Homo sapiens: one gene and its partner. The protein of the gene in region 2 interacts with the protein of the main gene of each other region in a biochemical or structural test. Each region holds a gene or a part of one and is shown on either strand. Other genes may lie near its edges.

The links. Proteins that work in one complex are often made in the same cells at the same time.
Region 1: the proteins of RHPN1 (region 2) and RGS12 interact in a test that uses a peptide from one of them, tested with the Homo sapiens proteins (one large-scale study listed by IntAct).

What each region holds. Positions count from the first base shown.
Region 1 is NC_000004.12:3,313,521-3,317,020, reverse strand, and holds part of RGS12 (regulator of G-protein signaling 12), read right to left. Parts: intron 2,211-3,500; exon of another isoform or gene 2,072-2,210; intron 952-2,071; 5' UTR 851-951; coding exon 1-850. UniProt on the Homo sapiens protein: Regulates G protein-coupled receptor signaling cascades. Inhibits signal transduction by increasing the GTPase activity of G protein alpha subunits, thereby driving them into their inactive GDP-bound form.
Region 2 is NC_000008.11:143,375,376-143,378,875, reverse strand, and holds part of RHPN1 (rhophilin-1), read right to left. Parts: intron 3,324-3,500; coding exon 3,208-3,323; intron 2,352-3,207; coding exon 2,223-2,351; intron 1,497-2,222; coding exon 1,421-1,496; intron 608-1,420; coding exon 530-607; intron 181-529; coding exon 56-180; intron 1-55. UniProt on the Homo sapiens protein: Has no enzymatic activity. May serve as a target for Rho, and interact with some cytoskeletal component upon Rho binding or relay a Rho signal to other molecules.

The DNA of each region.
Region 1 (3,500 bases), on a different chromosome or scaffold from region 2:
TCAGCTGCACACAGTCGTGCATGATCTTCATGGTCACCAGCGAGTGGATTTTCTGCTCTGCCCGCAGGCGCCGCATGCAGCCGCGGATGGCTTGCAAGCTGTCGGACTCCAGGTTGGAGCTCGTGGAAGGAAGCTCAATGGAGCCTAAGTAGCCCACGATCATCGCCACGTTTAAAATACTTGCATCCAATGCAAAATCGTCATGACTTTCTAGTCCAATGCTGAAAACCGAATCATCATGAATAACTTTTGATATTTCCTCCTTAGAAAGCATGTTGGGATTTGGATTATTTATACTTTCATGTCCAACATCAAATCGAGTTGCGGCCGACTCTGAAAGGGATCTTTGTTTCAATTTCAAGGGCTCTGAATTGCTCGCACAAAGGCTCGGGTTTTCAAAAATCATATTGAAAATTCCACCAGACTGCATTTCCTCCACGACTCGCTCTGCTCTGTTTATACCTAGTGCTTTAGAATCCAGCTTGGGCTTCAGCCAGCCTTTTCCTTCATAGAGTCCCCCTTCTTCATCACTGGAACAGGATTCGAAGCGGCCGACGCCTTCAGCAATCACCATGTGAAGGACACCAGAGCACTTCCCAATTAATTTCACTACATCTTCATGAGATGCTTTTTTCACGTTGATTTCATTGACAGCAAGTATCTGGTCTCCAGCTCGGAGGCCCACGAAATCCGCAGGGCTCCCTCTCATGACGCAGCTGAGCACACAGGGTGCCTGTCCCGAAAGCGTGAATCCGTAGCCGGCCCTCCCCCGGGCAACCTCCACACTCCGCACCCTTGGGGGCGACGGCCCAGGCAATGGGCGTTTGGAGGCCTCCCCAGCTCTAAACATTCTGATGAGCTTCCAAGACCAAGAGCACGTCTCATTGTTCCCTTGGAGCCATATTTCAAGGAATGCTTGATGCTACCATGTTTGCTTCTTCAAACAGTGCCCTAAGAAAGAAAAACGAACAGCTCATTATTAAAGAGCCCATCTTTCTCCACCACTCACTGGTATTAGCTAAACACAAAAAGATAATTCATAATAAAAACCACCACAGAAAGAGCCTCTAAGTGTCTATAGATAATAAATCTTCAAGTCAGGCTAAGAAACTTCCTTTCGGAGTAGAAAATGTCTCCCACAACTGCTACCTTGTTACCACACAAGTTCCTGCCAGGCCCACCTGCCACGGGTGTGAGGATGCAGGACTGCTTCCCAGCACTGCTTCCACACCCTGTTTGGATGGAAAGAGCCCCTTGCTACTCAAAGTGTGGTCCGTGGACTGGCAGCCCGTCTGAAAGGCAGACTCTCGGGCTCCACACAGAAGAAACACACCCAAACCCACGTTTCACAGGATGGCAGAGTCCAAGCGTGAGAAGCAAGGCCTGCTACAGGCTTCAGGTTCAAAGGCACCTGCAGAACACTGAGTCTAACCCCTTAGTTGATCATAAATCCCCTGACATAGAGTTTTCCCTCAGGAGAGGGGTCACCTAATATTCCATGACCCTCCCACATTAATTTATTTTGAATATACTGTGTGGGGGAAAACGTATTAGCCTGAAACAACCTCGATCAATACTGCAGAGGCCACTCAACAGGCTAGATAAAAACCACCACCTAAAAAAGCAGAAATGTCATATTAACTCAATTCTTCCAGGGGGTATAAAAGTATTGGTTGTCATTGAGAACAAACTTGTCAGTGGTCCGCGGATCACCCCCAGGCCAGTGATTCCCTAGGATTCCCAGGACTTGGCACAAAGGTGCTCTCACAGCTGAGATTCATTACAGCGAAAGGATTCCACACAAAATCAGCAAGGGCAGAGGTCCATGGGGCGATGTCCCAAAGAAACCAGGCTTGAGCTTCCAGAATCCTCTCCCAGCGGGGTCACGCAGGACGCACTTAACTCCCTACACAGTGAGCCGTGACAACGCATGTGCAGTGTCGTCACCAGGGAAGCCCACTAGAGACTCGGTGCCAGGGTTTTTACTGGGGGCTGGGCACATGGGCACCCTCTGCCTGCTTCGTGCCCAGACTCTGGACTCCCAGAAGAAAGGAAGGTTCTCAGCACAAACCTTGTTCCCCACACAAGCAGCTAAGCACAGGGAGCCCCTCTTCATTGAGGGTGGTGGGCACCGTCCTGACACCAGCGGGGGGCCAGCCTTGCACACAGGCCTCTCAGGATGGTCTCGGGCCTGCTGTGTAGTCTCTTCTGCAAGACTCTTTAAAGATCACTTTAAAAAGCAATACAGTAAGTGATTGTGTTGTGAAGACACAAAATAGAATAGAGGGTATGTTTTTTTAAAGAAATAATTGTTTTAGGCCAGGTGCGGTGGCTCACGCCTATAATCCCAGCGCTTTGGGAGGCCGAGGCAGGTGGACCACGAGGTCAGGAGATCAAGACCATCCTGGCTAACACGGTGAAACCTTGTCTCTACCAAAAATACAAAAAAAATTAGCTGGGCATGGTGGCGGACGCCCGTAGTCCCAGCTACTCGGGAGGCTGAGGCAGGAGAATGGCATGAACTCGGGAGGTGGAGCTTGCAGTGAGCCGAGATCGTGCCACTGCACTCCAGCCTGGGTGACAAAGCGAGACTCTGTCTCAAAAAATAAAATAAAATAAAATAAATAATTGTTTTAAAGTTAATAACTTCTAATAGAAAAGATTTTTGTGTCTTGGGATAAAGTTTCCAGCAATAGGATCATAAACAGATTTGAAGTAATTTACACACATAAAAGCTACAGAACTAGATAGAGTGGAAAGGCTATTACTAGGTGACTCCAAAAGTGGCTTCAGTGATGACAAAACACGGACACAGAACATGCGTACTTAGTAAAATTATGTTTTGATGGAAAAGAGTAAAAAATGAATATAAATTACATTACTCAATATCTAAGTAGTACTGTATTAATAATTTAAATATTAGGACTGGGCATTTAACTATTTAAAATCATTAAAAAATGAATTTAAAAAATAAAATAATTAAAATTATTTTATAATTTTTTAATAATTAAAAATTATTAAAAATCATCATTAAAAAATAAATAAATAAATGTAAAAGTTGGCCAAGAAACACGTCTGGGGATCGATCTTCTTAAGAGGTGTGACAGGCTGGCTGATGGCCCCTGATACACCCACATCCTCACTCCCAAGCTTTTGGATGGCTCCTCCCATCCACGTGACCACGTGAAGGCTCTAGAGATGGGGAGAGTGTGGGGTGCGCCTGTGTGAGCCTGGGGTCAGAGCCAGAGGGGACGGCCACATGAGGAAGGATGCGGAGACTGCAGGGATTCAAGGATGGGTCTCGAGCCCAGGCAGACGGGCAGGCGGTCACCTCCAGAAGCCGGAAAGGTGAAGGAAGCAGACTTAAAGTCACCAGAGGAACCAGCTCTGCCACACCTGCCATCAGCCAGGTCACACTGACTGCAGACACGAGGCCCCCGAAAACGCAGGAGAATGAATGTGTGTTGTCTTAAGCCCCCCAGTTTGCAGTAATTTCTTTC
Region 2 (3,500 bases):
GTTCCCGCAGCTGGGCCTCCCCTCCCCAGGGTGCCTCCGCCCGCAGAGCCCCTACCAGTGGAAGAAGAGCCCGAGGCTCCTGGCAGGGGTGAGGAAGCGCGCATCCAGGAAGCACAGCTGGTTGTAATAGGCTGTGAGCAGCTCCAGGCCCGACTCATTCCGGCTGGGGGTCCGCATGGCCTGCAGGGCAGGAGCCACTGGGCCCCACCGCCCTGGCCCACCCCACTCACACACACTGCCCTGGGAAGTCCCATGGGCACCAGCACCATGGGGGGCGGGGAGGCAAAGCCAGTGGGGCCCTGGGCAGCCGTGACTCCCGAAGGCCAGCAGCATGCGGCACCGGAGCCACCTGGGAGCCCCTCCACGCCCCCTGGCTGGGTCTGGACACACAGGGCCCCTGGTGCGCCCGTCTCCCCACGTCCTCGAGATGTCTACGCTGAGCTCCTCTGTCTGTTCCTGACTTCAGCTTCAGCCTCCGCATGTGTCTCCCAGGGCTGCAGGAGGGTGGGTGGGCGGGGGAACCACACACCTGCCGCAGGGCCTCCAGCTCCCTGATTTCTGCCTCGTAGGAGGCGCCGTCCTCTCCAAAGTGCACTGAGATCAGCTCCTGATGGGGGGCAGGTGTTGGCATCCACAGTACCCCTGTGCCTGGCCTCCTTCCCTGAGGTCTCCCAACCCACCTTGGGAAAAGACTCATGGTGGAGGGAGGGTCTGTGCCGCAGAGCAGGCTGGCTGCCATGCAGCGTGGGGGCCCTGGGCCCCTCAGTGGAAGCCCCAGAGAAGGGCTGGGGGCCAATGTGTATGGAGGGGCCTGGTGGGTTGATGCGGGTCGGAGCCCCTGTGGCCCTGGGGTTTCCCCACCCCATCACAGAAGCGGGGCCTGGAGACTCAGCGCTACTTTTACGTGCGTTTCCTTATTCATCCCCGTGGCCGGGAGGCAGGTGCCATCTGCCACTCAGTGACTCGGACACGGAACACAGTCAGTGGCTCCCGTGGGGCCCTGCCAGGCAGTGCCAGTCTGTTCTAGCTCTCCCCAGGACCCTCGTGAGCCAGTGCTGGGTGTGTGGCCCCAAGCCAGTGGTGCCCTCCATGGGCGAGCCTGTACCCTGTGCTCCGGCTGGGGCTTCCAGGCCCCATCCTCCTAGGGCATTGCCCATCCGAGGGTAGGGCACATGTTCACACCCACTCTATGGGATCAGCCCCGGCCTGGGGCGCAGGCACCAGCGGGGCCCTGAACGCAGCAGAGGCTGGGTCCCTGTGGCCATTTCTGCCAGGTCCCTTGCGTCCCTTTTAAGCCTCCCTCCCTCTGGGCCTCAGTTTCCCTATCTGTTCAACCAGACAGCTGGACCAGAAAGCCTCCAAGACCCCCTTGGTCCCAGGGCAGGGCCGTGTATCTCAGAGCTTGGAGGCCAGTACCTACCTTCAGCGGTGTAGACCAGTCCAGCTCCTTGGTCTCCTTCAGGCCCAGGGGGATCATGGGGACAGTGACAGCTTCGCTGTAACCAGAAGCATCGACTTCAGACTGTAAGGCCAAACCCTGCTGCCCACGGCAGCCCGGGGTCCACTCCTAGGGCTCTGTGGCACAGGGTGCCTCCCTCCCTCATGGGTGTGCACGTGCGCCTGTGTCCTGGGGGGCATCCTTGCACCTGTGCACCACCCCCCACCGTCCTAAACCGCCCCAAAAGCAAACACACACACACAGAGACACACACATGCGCGCGCACACACACACACAAACACATGCGTGCATACACATGCAGACACACATGCGCACGCACACACATATATGCACACACGTGCAGACACACACACGCGCACACACAGACACACACAGACACACGTGCATACACGCACACATAGAGGCAAACACACACCCACATACACGCAGACATGCACACGCACGCAGACACGTGCACACAGACACACGCACAGAGATGCACACACAGACACATGCAGACACACAGACACACGCGCACACAGACGCATGCACACACATGCACACACATATACACACAGAGACACACGCACACACACAGAGATGCACAGACACATGCACACAGACACACGCGCACAGACATGCATGCACACACATGCACACACGCACACACACAGACAATGCACACATATACACACAGAGACACACATGCGTGCACACACATGCACACACACACGCACACGTGCACACACATACACGCACGTGCTGTCCCGGCCCCCACCCGCACCTCCCATGCCGGCCAGGGTCCACGCCACCGCTGAGCTCCTCCAGCTCCTCCTTCAGCAGCTGCAGGTTGGAGTTGACGTAGCTCAGCTCCAGGGCGACCGTCTCTCTCACCCGGTTGTTGCTGGTGGCTCTGAGGGAGGCCGCGGCAGTTGAAAGCCCAGCCCCAAGGCAGAGCCAAAGGCCCCGTGCCCACTGCAGCCGTCCTGCCAGCTGACCTGTCAAAGCTCCAAGCCCACCCTGCAGAGGACGTCGCTGACAGGGTCTGCCCCCCATGGGTGGGGCAGGGGCAGCAGTGGGATCCGGGGGCTCACAGGTGATGCCCCCTACAGTTCATCACCCCGACCCCAGCACCTGCATGTTCCGACTCTGGCCTGGGGGCACCTCCCTCAGCACCACGGCTTTCTTTGGGGCTCATACAGCCCTCGACAGCACTCAAACATCACTCCTTGGATGGTGGGTGAGAGCCACACACCTCTCTGTGCCTGCATCAGGGCCTGGCAAAGGGACCGGAGGTCCCCAGGGAAGGCCAGGATGGGGGCAGGGAGGTAGCAGGTGCTAAGGGGACCGAGGGGCACTCACACGCACATGTGTGGCACACAGGCGGTGTGCTCTAAGGAAGAGGCAGCCCAGGTCTTCCACCCCCTCCCAGGTCCCCAACCTTGGGACGCGCCATCACCTGCCACAGCTCAGCCTCAACCATGCCTCTTCTGAGAAGCCCCCACGTGCACTGTTGGGGCTTCCCAAGCTGCACACCCGGCAGGGACACTGGTTTCCTGGCACCTCCAGCCCAGCACAGAGGCCCACGGAGGCAGGTCTGTGAGGGTCATGGCTGAGCATCACGTGTACTACGTGCCCACCAGGACCCAGCTGCTCATGCACCTGTCTCTGTGACCCGGCCATGGGGCAGACATCTGCCTGCGTGGCTGTCCTGCCCCCCTCACCCAGGTGGGCCCTGCTCCCGGGGCCGGGCAGTCTCAAGCACTGACCTGTAGAGGTTCTCAGCGCCCGTCCGCATCTGCAGCTCCTTGTCAATCTGCTGGTGAATCTGGGCCCTGCGGCTCTGCAGCTGGCCGCACTGGATCTGCGTCAGGGAGTCACAGCCCTGCAGGGAGGCCACAGGCGATCACAGCCCGACCCCGTGGCGCCCGCACCAGGCTGCGCCTCGCCAGCCACTGAGAGGAGTGCATCCTGCCCATGGGTAACGGGATGGTCACCATGCGCTGGGGCTGGAGCTGGCCTCACAGGGAGGGGCTGGACAGAACTAGTGTGAACACAGGCC